Regions from separate parts of the Homo sapiens genome. Here region 2 is linked to region 1. The links come from fine-mapping of genetic effects on gene expression. Tissue or cell type: macrophages. Region 1 holds a variant in brackets; the other region holds the start of a gene. All regions are shown on one strand. Distances are from middle to middle.

What was found. PIP is the estimated chance that this variant, and not a neighbour inherited with it, causes the effect.
Region 2: it holds the start of SLC27A2, and the variant in region 1 is fine-mapped to the expression of SLC27A2 in macrophages (Alasoo 2018, PIP 0.95).

What each region holds. Positions count from the first base shown.
Region 1 is chr15:50,119,885-50,127,991 of GRCh38, forward strand. It overlaps a transcript of ATP8B4 not described here. Among named protein-coding and RNA genes, the nearest start is that of ATP8B4, 4.7 kb to the left of the region's middle. The variant C/T (reference allele first, on the strand shown) is at 4,470.
Region 2 is chr15:50,179,074-50,187,180 of GRCh38, forward strand. SLC27A2 (solute carrier family 27 member 2) reads left to right here and starts at 3,123. Exons shown (of 10, transcript NM_003645.4): 1 at 3,123-3,832. The coding sequence starts at 3,355. It also overlaps a transcript of ATP8B4 not described here. RefSeq lists silencers at 3,015-3,354, 3,625-3,724.

The DNA of each region.
Region 1 (8,107 bases):
AGAGGATGCAAACATTAACCCTGATGGTACCAAAGAACAAATGCACATAGGAAATGGATTTACATCTTTTAGTTTGGAATTGCTTTTAAGGGGATTCTGGTTGTTAAAGCGGGATTAGATGAAAATAAAATATTTTGGTGCATATCTATTTTTAAAAGGAAAAATATGGCTTCTTTTAAATATGCCTAAAGCCATCTAGGAATTTTCCAGAAGTTGCATCAGATTTGCCAGTTAAGTACTGAAATCAAATAGATTTTAATCATGTCTCTATAACCAGAGCAAGCTAATCCCCTGCGCACCATCAACTCCACTCTCCTGGAACATCCTCACGCTGGGCCCTCAGGTTTTCACAGAAACAAGGGCCTTTTCCTACCAAGGTTCCACAGTAACAAGAAACTACAGATTTCTGGAAATAAGAGAGATGGCTTTCTTTCTTACATGATAAAAGAGGACCAAGAACAGCTTAGAGCAGGAAGCAATCATCTCTTTAAAATATTTAAAATAAAAAACACTTTTAAGTGAAAAACATTTTTAAGTATCACCTCTATACCATTTTTAAACCTATCATATGGGGCAAATATAAGTTTGGTAATTCCCTTTGTTAAAGAAGATATAAGGAAATCAGGGCCTTTTCCTTTTCCTATACTGTTAGTGGGAATATAAATTGGTAAAATATTTTTTAAAGGAAACTGAGTATAGTAGTGCCTATCAAGTATTGAAATGTGTATGTGTTTTTATTTCTTAGGAATTTACCTTATAGAAAACCACACACACGTGCAAACATATCTCTAAATATGTTAATTATAGCACTATGATAGCAACAACAAAAAAACACCTAAAAATGGCTTACATATAAGAGACTGCCTAAATAAGTTAAGGTATATTGATACAAAAGAGTACTATGTAGCCATTCAAAAGAGGGTAGAATTGGAGTAAGGAATCAGGTCATCTGAGTTTAGTTCTGTCTCCACCAGTGACTGGCCAGGTGACTATGCAAGCTCCTACACTTATCTGGGCCATCTGTAAAAAGATGATCATTATAGAACTTACCTCATAGGATTGTTGCAACTAAAACAGTGCCTGGAGCAAAGTAGAGACTCAATAAATTTAGCTATTATAAATAAGAGATAGGCCTCTTCAGACTGACATAGAAAAAGATGTCCAAGATGTACTGTCAAGTGAAAAGATCAAGTTGCAGAAGAATTGTGTATAAGATAATCTCATTTTTAAAAAATATTTTAAATGTGCTCGCTGTTTATTGTCTCCCTCCCACTAAAATAAAAGCTCCTTGAGAGCAGGGACTTTTGTTTACTGTTGAACTCCTGGTGTCCATAATAAGCACTCATGAATAATGAATAATGTCGAATGAATAATGATAACAGCAAGGCTCAGCAAGAAGAATAGGTGAATTCACAGAGACAGAAAGAGTAGAGGCTACCAAGGGCTGCAGGAAGAGAGTATGGGAAGGTATTGTTTAATGGGTACAGGGTTTCAGATTGGGATGATGGAAAAGTCCTGGAGATGGATAATGGTGATAGTTATACAACACTGTGAATGTACTTAAAGCCACTGAACTGTACACTTAAAGGTAGTTAAAATGATAAATGTCATGTTATGTATACCTAGCACAACTTTTTCAAAAATTTCTACTTTTTCTTCATAAGGAGTAGAAAGACGGGGAACAGAGAAGGATGTCCATCTTATAGAGGACTATTACTAGTGTGACTGCAAACCCTTGCTAATCAGAAAACAGTTTAAATTCTCGATTTAGGATACAAGAAAAAAAAAACCTTTTATTCCCATTATACAAAGGTAGCTAAACAGAGCTTAAACTTTCATCCCTATTAGGCAGTATGTGCACTGTCAGAACGCCAGGTCTGTGTTTTCAAGAGGCCTTATTTTGTTTTAAAGCCTTACTTTTGACAAACGTCCTTTATGTCTGTAGTCTAGAGTTTTCAAAGTGCTTTCTCAAGGATCATCTCAACTTGTCCTGACAAAAATCTCGTGATCATATTAAAGGAATTTTAATTAAGTATCTGAGCATTTGAGAGAAAAAAAGAATTCTGAATTTACTCACTCTTTTACCTTGTTCTCCAACTTTACACACATTTCATCAAAACGAAGAGATGGAAATTTTTATTCTTAAGAATCTGAAACCACACAACTATAAGTCTAATATACAACGGAATAAATAGCATCTTATGTTTCTTAGAACCTGTAAATATCTCTTGCCTAACTGCCAAGATAGCTAAGAAAGCCAATGAATTATGGTTTTAGATAAACAGATTAACTACCTGTAACAAGTGGGATGGCCTGGCCTATAGTTTGAAATCTACAGTTGGAAGAAATTGATCTAACATATTTTCATTCAACAAATGCAAATACTCTGCTAGACACTTTGTGGGACATAGAAAAGATGAACAAAATATGATTCCTGCTCCTGTGATGCTTATCAGCTGCTGGAAGGAATCAGATGTGCAGATGAGGAGATTCTGCAATTTAAGTCTCTGACATTGAGAATGGGATTGACAAATAGTAGATTTAGTCACTTTATGTCAATTCAATTTAATAACAATAAAATAAATTAAGATTTAATTGATTACCTGGAATTTAGTCATAACAGAAGTTTTAGGTTTTGTTGTGTTTGTCTGTTTGTTTGCTTGCTTGCTTTTAAGGCCAACAAGGGAAGATTGAGTTGATTGAAATGTCAAACCAAGTCCTTGGTGTCAGCCTAAACAGCAGAGAAGTAGCTCTGGCCTAAAATTGCAATTTGGGAATATGCACTAAATAATGAAAGAAAATCAGAACAAAGTATTTCATAATTCTATAAGCATATTCTTGAACTATCCACCTGCTCCAAGCAGACTAGAAGCCCACTTGAATCTCCTAAAGTCTACACTGGAGTCTACACTGCAAACCTACTCACTAAAGAATGAGAATTGCTGAAGTGTAAATCATAGAACATTGTGTAAATTACTCACCCACCTTAAGCCTTAACTTCCTGGTTGCAAAATTGGGAAGATTAAAACCTTCTTCTCAAGCTGTTTGTGAAGATTAAATGAGATATTCATTAAATAAATAACAAATGGATAAAAGTATGCATTCATATGAAAATTGTATATGCAGTGATAGAATAAGAATAAATAGCACACAACCCAGCACCTGTCACATAAGCCATTGTCTAACAAAGGTCAGTATCTTCTTTACTATCTCTCCAGAATCCAAATGCGACTACATTTTCTTTATCAGAACAGATAGGAGACTGAAGCCACCTTTGCAAAAATTATAACAGTGAGAAGATTATGACAGTGAAAGACATCTGACCTAACTGACTCCATCTTGCTTCTAACCTCCAAGCTGTCCTTGTCATTCCTGGGCATAGGCTGAACTAACTTTGGGAAAAATTTAGTTTATAGTTTAACTTTGCAACAAAGATGGTAACAGCCCTTCCCCAAACAAACCCCCTTCTTACCTAGGGACCAGTCTGCCTTTGTAGGACTAACAAATTAGCTACAGGATTAAAAATTATGGCTTAGGAGTCATGCAGCCAGAGGCTGCAAGATTCTGAACCTCCCCATATTGCTCCTGAATGGTTTACAGAATTAACCAGGAACAGAAGACAGCAAGGAAAACCCAGTTCAACCTCCTGTGATTTCATCTTCAACTCGACCAATCAGCATTCCCCACTTTCTGACCCCCTACCCACAAAATTATCCTTAAAAACCCCAATCCCCAAATTTTCAGGGAGACTGATTTGAGTAATAATAAAACTCCTGTCTCCCATACAGCTGCCTCTGTGTAAATTAAACTCTTTCTCTGTTGCAATTCCCCTGTCTTAATAAATTGGCTCTGTCCAGGCAGCAGGCAATGAGAACCCACTGGGCAGTTATGAGACCTTTGAATTCTGAGCTACTCCACATCTCCAGTTTTTTTCATCCTGATCCAACCATCTGTCTTCTCCTCTCTCTAGGGCAGTATTCCCCAAGCATATCCTTTCCATACACCATAAAACAGCATAAACAGACATTTTAAAGGGATGATATCAATAAAGATAATTCAAAGTTTTAGTATTTTCTTCCTGCACCCCAGAGCAGTTATTCAGAACCTCCTTACCTCAGCAGGTGACAGGAGTACAGTACACTAATAATGTTCCTGGGCCACCACGCCCCCTTCTCTCTAGTGATTGAAACCAATTTGCCTCCCATTCAAAAACAGATCCAACAAGTCTTTGAAGTAACATATGCCCTCATAGCCTTTAATATCTAAAAAGAAAGTATAGTTTTCTAACCTCTTGTAGTTTCATTTATTATCTGGCACTTTCCACTGTGTATTGGGCCGAAGTTCACCAAGAGAAGGTAACTCAACTCCTCCCCCACCCCAATTTCCCCACCAATTACTTAACCTTTTATGAAATAAAGGAGGTTTCTTTACATTGGCCAACATAAACGACTGACCCATTGTTGGTAGTG[C/T]CCTTTCCTGTGTGGGATTTTCCATCCTCCATGAAAAGACTCACAATTAAGTTTTACTTATTACTCAACTAACTCATGAAAAGAACAAAAAGAGAATAAGAGAATGCAAACAAGAAGTTAGAAGTTAAGCCACAGATAGAGACCCGGATTTAGAAGTAGAGGACTTTTCTACTCTACTAATAAAATTTCAGGAATTAAACTTAAAGTAATATAAATCCACCACTACATTACAATTAAGCTGGTAAGATTTTTAAAAAGAAAAAAAAAGATACCTAAATTTATGGGTGCTAAATGTCACCTCTGGGAACCAGCTCCTGACAGTGATCTGGACTTTCCCTCAAGGGCTCTCCTGAATATCCCTTTCAGTGCAGACACTCAGACACAAGCAAGAACAATAGATCCTACAGGGCTTGTTGTTATGCAAGCCCACTCACCAAAACCAGGTGATTTGCATTTAATTTGCCCTTTCAAATACTATCTGAACCATGTGTTCCAGAACTAGATGACCCAGCTTTAAACCAGACAGCCTAACACCAAGCCAGACTATTGGCAACTCTAGTTGTAAAAGTCATTCTAACAATTCATTTCCAAGTGATGAATGCTCCACAGCCAAAACTGGATCCTGGAATAGGCTGTTGGCATCAGCAAGAGAAACACTCCCTAAAATAATGTATCTCTTGCTATCAGGGGAGTATAGTATCTTCTTTGCACATAATGGGTATCCAGTAAAGACTTTTGGCCTCCGCTTTTTTATAGACTGACATCATAAGAAGTCCTTCCAACAATCAGGGCATTTACAAGAAAGGAGTAGTAGAACAATGAACCCGATCTGGATCAGTTTCAGGGCTACATGGTTCTTGTTATCTCAGAATCTCCAAGACCCAAGGAGCAGCCAGACACTTAGGGTCTTTTAACACTCACTCCAGCCCCATTTTCTCCTTAGCAAACTGTCATCCCAATGAGAAGAGACGCTCTGCTCTTCATCTCTTTACCCTTTTAGTCTGTCCTCCAGGTCACTGGGTGTGAAAATTTCCTACCCCTTATATGACACTTGGGAAGTGTAGGGTCCAAGATCAAAGGAGTTCAGGCTCTTAATCAGGACATGTCTCTGGGACATTTCACACATTCTTCACCATTTTCCAAGCCCCAATTCTGTATCAACCCCTCTGCAAGGCATTGGGGACCCCAAGGTAACTGAGACCTGGTCTCTGTGAGAACAGAAAAATAGCTCAGAGCAGTCTGCACTACGGGAGGTTCGAAAAATTTATCAGGCCCAAAAAGACAGGAGTCTAAGATTTCAGTCATGTGACCCCCAAACCCATCTGTGGGGGCAATTGTTTAAAGGCATTTTGTTCCTGACTACCTGCCTCACCTATTATCTTCATGTTCCTGGAATTTTAATACAAAGAAACAACATATAGCCAATCAATAACTTATGTTATTTTTAATGTAAATTCTTGGTAAACAACTTAGAAACTGCCTCTTCTTTTCTTTAAAAACCTGCTTGTAACTGCTGCTACAGCTTGTAACTGCAGAAAACTGAATCTATGCTCCCAGGTTGCAATCCTCAAGCTTGGCCCAAATAAACCCTCTAGTTATATCTATTTTGCCTGGGATTCTTTCTTTTAGGTCGATATCTGCCCTAACAAGAATCCTTCTAGTGGAAGAGAAAATAGTTGTGAACAAATTGTGACACAATGTGATAGTAACTCTAATTTAGGTGTCCCTTGTCCAAACAGGCTTCGGAACTACAGGAGAGGGGAAGCCATATTTCAGTGTGGGTGTGGAGGTGTCACGGGAAACCCTCAGAACAAGTGAAGCTGAGTCCTGAAAGATGAGTAGATGAGTTAGGGAGGGTCTTGTTAGTTCCTAACAAGCTAACAGTCCAAAAAAAAAAAAAAAACACTTCACTAATACTGTCAGAGGCGTCCAAGGCCTTTGAACCAGAGCAACTCCATCTTACATTCCCAGAAGATTAGTCATTCTTAGACACAGTTTCAGTTAAGGGAACAGGTTAATAATGTTTACTGAACAGACCCAGGAAATGTCCCGATGACCTGATATTGTTACTGGAAAGGGATCCCAATCCAGATCCCAAGAGAAGGTTCCTGGACCTTGTGCAAGAAAGATTTCCATTTGGTGGAGGTCCGAGTTTCTGAAAAGTAAACTCAGGGTCATATGTCAAGATGTTATCTTTAGCTTCTGTAGAGAACCAAACATCTTATGACTATAACTTCTTTAGCTATTATTTTAAGCTACTATTACTCTCTTACTTATCAAGTTGCTCATTTAATTCTCAGGACTAGCTAGGTGCCTGGAATTTCCATTGAAGAAACGCAAGATTTTCCTTTATTTCCATGCTTGGTGGAGGGTGGCAGGCAATCTGATAAGCAAGGAGGTAATAATAGCTTGAAACAATAGCCAAAGAAGTTAGAGTCCCAATAGAAACTAAAAATAACATCTTAACATATGTCCCTGAGCTGTTTTGCAGAAACCTGCCCACAGCCCCCACACCCCCCCGCCACCAAATGGAAAACACCATCCACTGGCACAACAGACCTTGGGGAAGGGGGAACTGGAGACTGAAATCTGACCACTGTTCTTCATTCTAAATTTCTTCCTGAGGGGCCTGGCAGAAGTTATACCTACAGGCCAGAGTTCAACATTCCTTTCTGCTGACCCCAAGTTTTTAAACAAATCTTAACCAATCGCAGATCGGGAAATCTTTGAATCTACCTGTAACCTGTGGACCCCCACTTCAAGATGTCTCCCCCTTTTTAGGTCAAACCAATAGCCTCCATGTATTGATTTATGGCTCTGCCTGGAACCTCTGCCTCCCTGCCTTTAAAAACTCTTACATGGAAGCCATCAAGGGGTTTGGGTTTTAAGATTAGCTGCCCAATTCTCCTTGCATAGCACCCTGCAATAAATGCTTCACTTTTCCTCACTGCAAATCAATCCCAGTGTTAGTATTTGGCTTTGCTGCATGGGCAGGCAGATTAACTGACCCATGTTCAGTTCAGTAACAATGGCCTTCCTCTACTGTGACTTGGGCTTCCATTCTAAATGGCTTGAGTGAGTCACAAACATACATCCCACAGCAATCGTGAATGTGGAGAGCAAAGGTGAGTTTGCCATCATCTCAGTATATCAGTCAATGTAATTTCTAGGTCCTAATGGATCAGAGACCAGGCAAAGATTAGGCAAGAATTGAGTCATGGAGGCCTCAAATGTTGCCTTATACACACTATCTCTGAGGATAGCAACCTAGACGCATTCTCTCTTAGATAAATAAACTGCTGCAGCTTGTGCTATAATACCGATTGCAAAGAAATTGATCCTACAGAACTAGAAGACTGCACTGGAGCAGGAGGTTAAAGCATCGGATGGCAGGAGGGAGATAAAACTGTTCAAGGCAGCTCTAGGACCATCCTGTCCTCTAGAGATATCCCATTATACATAGGGAGAGGAACAAACACCAGTAAGGTCTGTCTTTGAAGAAATATTAATTTCAGATGAACAATACCAAGGTGTGCCTCACTGTGGTTCTGCACACATCCCCACCAATGCTGAGCCATCTTTAGGTAGAGTGTGCCCCAGTCTCAAGGCCCAGGAGCTACAGCAGATGAGCAGATGAT
Region 2 (8,107 bases), 59 kb after region 1:
AGGGCATTTTTAGGAGTGTGCAGACCAGACTTGCTAAAAACAAAGTGCGCTTGAAAAGGAACAGTTAGAATTAAGTTTTGGTCCATTTTAAAATATTTAATACCTAATAATGTTTGGTTCATAGCAGAAACTCAATAAATATTTGTCAATTGAGTGTAGTGAAAGCTTGAGTGAGATTCAGAAGAGCCAGAAAATAAAGTTTAAATTTCATTTTATAGACCAGAGGTTCCCAAGAGATGTACCAAGAATGGGCAGCCAACGTGCTAAGCTATCGATCACCTTTCAAAGGAGTCAGGCAGAAGCCAGGGCATCTGGTCAACTCTAGGCCAGGTATGTTCTAGTATGCTGTACAAGTACAACTGTCTATAGATGTCATTGGTGGAAGACAATAGGAAGCAATGGGGAACCACTAAAGATAATTGAGCAGTGGAGATATAAGATGGCAGCAATATTTCCAGGAAGACTATTGCTGTGGTTTTAATGTTCATGTCCCCTACAAAATTCATATATTGAAATCCTAACCCTCAATGTGATGGTATTAGGAGGTAGAGCCTTTGGGGAGTAATTTGATCATAGGGCAGAGCCCTCATGAATGGGATTAGTGCCCTCATAAAACAGGCCCCAGAGAGGTAATTTGTCCCTTCTACCAAACAGTACACAGTGAGAAGGCACCATCTGTGAGAAAGTAGCCCTTCACCAAACACCACATCTGCTGGCACCTTGATCTTAGACTTGCCTCCAGAAGTCTGAGAAATAAATTTCTGTTGTTTATAAACTACCCAGCTTACAGTATTTTGTTATAGCAGCCCAAACAGACTAAGACATCTATTAACCTCGTGATAAAGCAAGAGCTGGATCCCAGGCTCAAAGCTGGAATCACTGGGACTCCCAAGGTATATATTATAGACATTTGAAAATTACTTCCCCAAATTTACTCTCCCTAACCCCACTTTTTAATAATACCGTAAAACGTTCCACAAAATGGCCTAGGTGAAATTGATTATACTCTCACCCCCATGGGTGAGCGCTGATTGGCTTAAAACAACTAGCACCTTTTTCCCCAGGACCCACAGACATTGGTTCAGAAATGGGCGCATAATCCAGTCAGGGATTTTTTTTTTTATGAGAACTCCTAAGAAAAAGATTCCTGTACTTCTCTCTGAAGTTGAGCCAGAAAGCATGTACCCCTAAGGGCTGTTGGCAGCCATCTTTGGACAAAAACCAGAGAGCCTGAATGAGAACAGAGGAGGTGCAGAGGAGAAATAGTGAAAGCAAAACTAGATCCAGGTGTCAGCATTTAAAATCCTTGATGTCTTAGCCCCGGACTCTCCAGTTACTACTTAAATTCCTGTTTCTGCTTCAGCTAGCTTGGGTCTTGTTTTCTTTTACTTGTAACTGAGGTTAAAGTGATCCTCAGAATAAGAGGGGAAAAAGTGGACCCTTGTGGTAATCTAGCACTCTGGGTAGACAGTAGCTGTTCAAGGAAAAGAGAAGAGGGGTGCAGGTGGCTACACAGAAGCGATTAGCCATCAAGGGACGAGGGTGGCATTGGGATGAAAAAGGAAGGGCTGGCTCTGAGCTTCACCATGAAAGAAGTGCACATGAGAATGGTTTCTGTCGGGCCCTCACTTTGGTTAATTCTACTGCTTTCTCCTCAGGGATGATGAAGGCCCCCAGCTCATCCCCAGGGAAATGATGCAACCAGGTAGCTGGATCAGAAATGAAAAAGTCAGGAAAAGGGAAAGGTTGCTTGCGCAGTTACTAGGGATACGAAAAGGAGGCTAAAAAACGGCAGGGGGTGGCCTGGAGGGAATGTGAAACATTTTTGTGTGTTTTACACACACCGAAAAAAAAAGAGGACATGGACAGAAACCTAGAGAATAGGAGGACAGCATAGTATAGTTACTAAGAATAAGCTAAGAGTTGGTTCCCCGGGACCAAACAGATACCATTTCCAAAACCCACGAATTACTTACCGGCTGTCTCAATTCACCTAAGCTTCCCTTTCTTGTCTGTAAATGAGCATGAAAGTGCCACCTGTATAAAATAACTCAGGCTCCCAAAATGTAACATAGGGAAGCTCCTAGCAGCGTGTCTGGGAGGAATAAGCATTATCTGTATTTATCGTATCAAATTAAGATAGAGGAACACAGGAGGACAGTAGAGGATGAAAATAAAACACTACTTAGATCCTGACCCTCCTCAGTGGCAAGTAGTGAGCATTCACTTCGTACAGAAGTAGCACTAAGGCAAATTAAAAGAAAGGTTCACATTTCCTCTAAAAGAAATGGTTTTTGAGTCATGCCAATACCACTTACTCAATGTCCTCTGTACTATACTATTCTCTGACAGAGCCACTTATTAAATGTGTGAACTGTGCTGACAACACTTGACAACTTTCAACATGAGGGAACAGCAGGATCACTTAACAGAACAAAATCGTAAAATAATGTCAAAGCTTGATTTCAGGTGGTGCGGTGTAGCACTGCTCTTCACGAAATCAGGACTCCCCCGACCAGGCAGGGCCGACTAGGTTAGAGTGTCCTGCCCTCACTCACCTGGCAGGGCTTGGGATGAGCTGGACGTGACTGCCACAGGCATTTCTGTTCAACCTTGAAGCCTTCGCTACAGGAGACCGCCTGGCAGTCGGGCTGGGAAGCAAATCTGAGAAACAAAGAGAGACCAGGCGGAAAGCCCTTGGGACCAGGAAGGAGAGATGAGATTCTGGTTTGGCAGTGGCACCTGGTACCCGCTATTAATAAATAATAGGACTGTCTGACATTTATAAGGCACTTTATCGGTAATAACAGTGTCATCTCCATAAGCCATTCTATTAGTGGTAACAAATAATAGCCCCACGCCTGCAATATCTCCTTTAATATTCCCAACGTCCGCTAAGCGCGTCTCATCACCATTTAAAGAAACCGTGGCTCCTAGAGGTAAAGTACTTCGGTCACAACGCGAGGAGGTCCAGACTTGACCCCAGACCTCCAGACTCGAGCTGGGAAGTGGCCGAGGCTCCTGGTGAGCCGCAGGGCAGCCTGCCCAGCCCCGGGAGGACCGCGTGGGAGGGCCGGGAGAGCAGGTGGCTGCCCCCCACAAGGGGGCGGGCTCAGCCGGCCAGTCCTGCCCGGAACCCCCGGCAACGCGCATACGACTACACCTGCTCCGGAGCCCGCGGCGGTACCTGCAGCGGAGGAGCTCTGTCTTCCCCTTCATCTCACGCGAGCCCGGCGTCCCGCCGCGTGCGCCCCGGCGCAGCCCGCCAGTCCGCCCGGAGCCCGCCCAGTCGCCGCGCTGCACGCCCGGGGTGAACCCTCTGCCCTCGCTGGGACAGAGGGCCCCGCAGCCGTCATGCTTTCCGCCATCTACACAGTCCTGGCGGGACTGCTGTTCCTGCCGCTCCTGGTGAACCTCTGCTGCCCATACTTCTTCCAGGACATAGGCTACTTCTTGAAGGTGGCCGCCGTGGGCCGGAGGGTGCGCAGCTACGGGAAGCGGCGGCCGGCGCGCACCATCCTGCGGGCGTTCCTGGAGAAAGCGCGCCAGACGCCACACAAGCCTTTTCTGCTCTTCCGCGACGAGACTCTCACCTACGCGCAGGTGGACCGGCGCAGCAATCAAGTGGCCCGGGCGCTGCACGACCACCTCGGCCTGCGCCAGGGAGACTGCGTGGCGCTCCTTATGGGTAACGAGCCGGCCTACGTGTGGCTGTGGCTGGGGCTGGTGAAGCTGGGCTGTGCCATGGCGTGCCTCAATTACAACATCCGCGCGAAGTCCCTGCTGCACTGCTTCCAGTGCTGCGGGGCGAAGGTGCTGCTGGTGTCGCCAGGTGAGCCCCGAGGATCGCCCTGCCCTGGCACCAGGGCTTCTCGGCGCCTTGACTGACGAGCCACAGCGTGGCATAAGGGGTTCGCAGAGGGAGGTTCAGATCGGAACTGTAGGTATAGAAAAAGGTTGGCAGTGTTTCCTTGAATCGCAAATAATGATCTTTTAGGACCACCTGTTGTGGAAGCTGATAATGTGCTAGGTTCTGTGTTAAGCACTCTACAGGCAGTGTGGTTTTTAATCCTCACAATGGGTAGGCTTTGTTATAGGACTTTTATAGATGAGACCACTGAGGTCCTGAGAGGTGAAGCCTCATGCCCAGCCATCTATCTCCAAATTCCAAGCTCTTAATCAATACTTATAACATCTGCATTAAAATGCAGAGGATCTTGAGTGCGAACTCTAGTGGATCCAGAGGGGCTCTTCTCACCTCTGCTGCTTGACTGGCTGTGTGATCATGGGAAAGTCACTTCTCCTCTCTGTCCCTTGGTTTGCTCCTCTCTAATGAGGCAGGCTTCAATGTTGCTTCCAGCTCTCAACTGCTGTTAGCATCCTGTCCCCTCCCTGCAGAACAAAGGTGACCCCACCTGATCCCCAGGGAGAAGATACTGGGGATCTGCTACAGGACCGTTGTGAGCCCCCACTGCATCTATCACAATAGTGACCCTTTCAGTTCTGTGGTTAGCTCCTGCCACATTTCAGCCAGACTTGAAACAGTAACTTAAGTGATGACAAGGTCAGGAAGTGACAGAGAACCTGTTACTCACAGGGCTGATGGCTTTCCCCTCCCAGAGAGCTTGTCTCTGCACTTGAATAAGGACCAAGGGTTCCTTCTCTCAGTCAGTAAGAAGAGGCCTACACAGGAGTGGGCTGAAAGACCTGGGTGACAGGGTAGGGGTCGAGGGAGCCGAGGAGCCTCAGCTTTCTAGAATGCATTTCTGTGCTAAGCCCTATAGTAGATGCTTTTATTACCCCGGGAGATAACATATCACTATCCCCACCACCACCACCACCATTATACAGTTGAGAAAACTGAGGCTTAAAATTCCAACCTAGCTCTATCCAACTTCGAAGCCATGCTCTTTCCTACATCTTTTTTTTTTTTTTTTTTGACAGTCTCGTTCTGTTGCCCAGGCTGGAGTGCAGTGGCGCTATTTCAGTTCACTGTAACCTCTGCCTCCCAGGCTCAAGCGATCCTCCCAGCTCAGCCTCTCAAGTAGCTGGGACCACAGGCATGCACCACCATGCCCAGCTAATTTTTTGTTATTTTTGGTAGAAACAGGGTTTCACCATGTTGCCCAGGCTGGTCTCAAACTCCTGAGATCAAGCGATCCACCCACCTTGGCCTCGCAAAGTGCTGGGATTACAGGTGTGAGCCACCACACCCAGCCTCTTTCCTACATCTTATTGTTTTCCTCTGCATGGATGTAAACTGTTAAGTGTGCTGGAAGGGATGAAGTGTCCACTTGCTCTACCCCTTCATTTCATAGCTGGGGAAACTGAGGCAAGCTAAGCGGGTTACAGAAAGATGAAAGGTTAATTCACTTGTGAGAAACCAGGAATCTTACACACCTGCTTCATGTGGCATGAAATAAATAATCCAAAAAATATAGGCTTTGTATAAAAGTTTAAAAGCAGAAAGCCAAATTTTAGGCTGGGCGCAGTGGCTCAAGCCTGTAATCCCAGCACTTTGGGAGGCCGAGGCAGGTGGATCACTTGAGGTTAGGAGTTCAAGACTAGCCTGGCCAACATAGCAAAAACCCCGTCTCGACTAAAAAAAAAAAAATTAGCTGGGCATGGTGGCGCGTGCCTGTAATCCCAACTACCTGGGAGGCTGAGGCAGGAGAATCACCTGAACCCAGGAGGCAGAGGTTTCAGTGAGCCGAGATCATGCCACTGCACTCCAGCCTGGGGGACAGAGTGAGACTCCATCTCAAAAAACAGAATAAAAAAAAGACAAGTTTAAAGGTGGCTAAATTATTTGGAAGAGATGGTCCTTTCAAGAAAATTCCCATTAATTTCTAGCTGCCTGAGAAAAGCGATAACTTCACTACTTTGTAACTAGAAGACTCTCCTAAGCCTATTACTTTACCAGCTTGCTTGGAGGGAAATTATTAACACAGTGATCTTTGTACCACTTCAGGAAGCATTTAAATTCTGTTTATCACTTTAGTATCCCAGGTCCCCTGAGAGGGAGGTCACAGGGTTTGGAGTTTTGTTGACAAAGAAGTTCAGGATTAAATGACCATAATACAGTTTGATTCTGCAATAAAGTCAGAATTACAACCAGATACCCTCTTCCCACCCAGCTAACAGTTGTCTGCCATAGAGCTATGTGTTTACATAGAGAATATATGGGAATTTCTATATTAAACTCAAACGTGAACCAGACTTTACAGTGGACCTAAGGCACTCTCTGGACCGTCAACTGACCTCTGAGGGAGGCCACATATTTGAAAAAAAATCAGTTTTTCCAAATCACTGAGATACCTTTGCACATGAAGCAAAATTACAGTCTGTCACAGAGTTGCATGTTTACTAAACATGCCCATGGGAAAATATGTTGAATGGACTGATTCTTAGAATTCTTTGGTGTTGGAAGGGACCTTAGAGATATTCTAACCCTATAATCCTGTAAGTTTAATGAATGTGTTATACTTTAAAAAAAAAAGTTTACAGAAGAAACTTTAATAAGCCCAAGAATCACCTAGGAAGCTTACTTTTTTTTTTTTTTTTTTTTTTTTTTGAGACGGAATCTCGCTCTTTCGCCCAGGCCAGGCTGCTGTGGCGTGATCTCGGCTCACTGCAAGCTCCACCTCCCTGGTTCACGCCATTCTCCTGCCTCAGCTTCCTGAATAGCTGGGACTACAGGCACCCGCCACCACGCCCGGATAATTTTTTGTATTTTTAGTAGGGGCAGGGTTTCACCGTGTTAGCCAGGATGGTCTTGATCTCCTGACCTCGTGATCTGCCGGCCTTGGCCTCCCAAAGTGCTGGGATTACAGGCGTGAGCCACCACGCCTGGCCGGAAGCTTACTTTTAAAAACATTCTGAGGCTGGACACTATGGCTCACTCCTGTAATCCTAGCACTTTGGGAAGTGGAGGAGGGAGGATCACTTGAGCCCAGAAGTTCGAGACTAGCCTGGGCAACATGATGAAACCCCATCTCTACAAAAAAAAAAAATACAAAAATTAACTGGGCATGATGGTGAGCACCTGTGGTCCCAGTTACTGGGGAGGCTGAGGTGAAAGGATTGCTTGAGCCCGGGAGGTTGAGGCTGCACTGAGCTCTGACTGTGCCACTACACTCCGGCCTGGGTGATAGAGTGAGACCCTGTCTCAAAACAAAAAAATAAAATTTCTGAGATCATCCCCAAAAATGCTGATTCAGTAAGACTATGTTGGGGCCCAGGAATGTGTATTTTTATAAGAAACCCCACCGCCAACCCTAGGTGATTTTGAAACAAATGGTCTGAGGACTAGGCTTTGAGAAACAGTCTAGTTTCCCATTGTTTTTCATTGTTGTTTGTTTGTTTGTTTGTTTGTTTGTTTTTGAGACAGTCTCGCTCTGTTGCCCAGGCTGGAGGTGCCGTGGCGCGATCTCGACTCACGGCAACCTCCGCCTCCCAGGTTCAAGCCATTCTCCTACCTCAGCCCCTCAAGTAGCTGGGACTACAGATGCCCACCACCATGCCCAGCTAATTTTTGTTATTATCAGTAGAGATGGGGTTTCACCATGTTGGCCAGGATGATCTCCATCTCTTGACCTCGTGATCCACCTGCCTCGTCCTCCCAAAGTGCTGGGATTAGAGGCGTGAGCCACTGCTACTGGCCTTCTCATTGTCTTATAGCTGTATAAACAAAGGCCTAGAGGGATGATATGAATTGCCCATGATCAAGTGGATAGTTAGGAACAGAAAGGTAGAGATAGAACCCAAATATTTTTTTCTCACTTACGAGGCACTGTTTATTCTATCACACCATCTTGAACATGATACATAAATGTCAGTTTGATTCCATATTTTGAGTTTCAGCCCAGGGCTTGTGGACTAGTAAGAGCTCTTGAGCTCCATCTGTCAGTCAAATTCTGCAGTATATGTAAAGGACCAGCACAGAGGCATTTATCATGAGGATTGATCCAGTTGTTATGAATTTGGGGGTTTCTTTATAACACTTAACAGGACTCAACCCTATCAGGAATTTCAGTACTCAATTACTCTTTTCAATTTTACTATAGTTACAGAAAGTCAAGACTCATAAACACTTCCCTGAATCAAG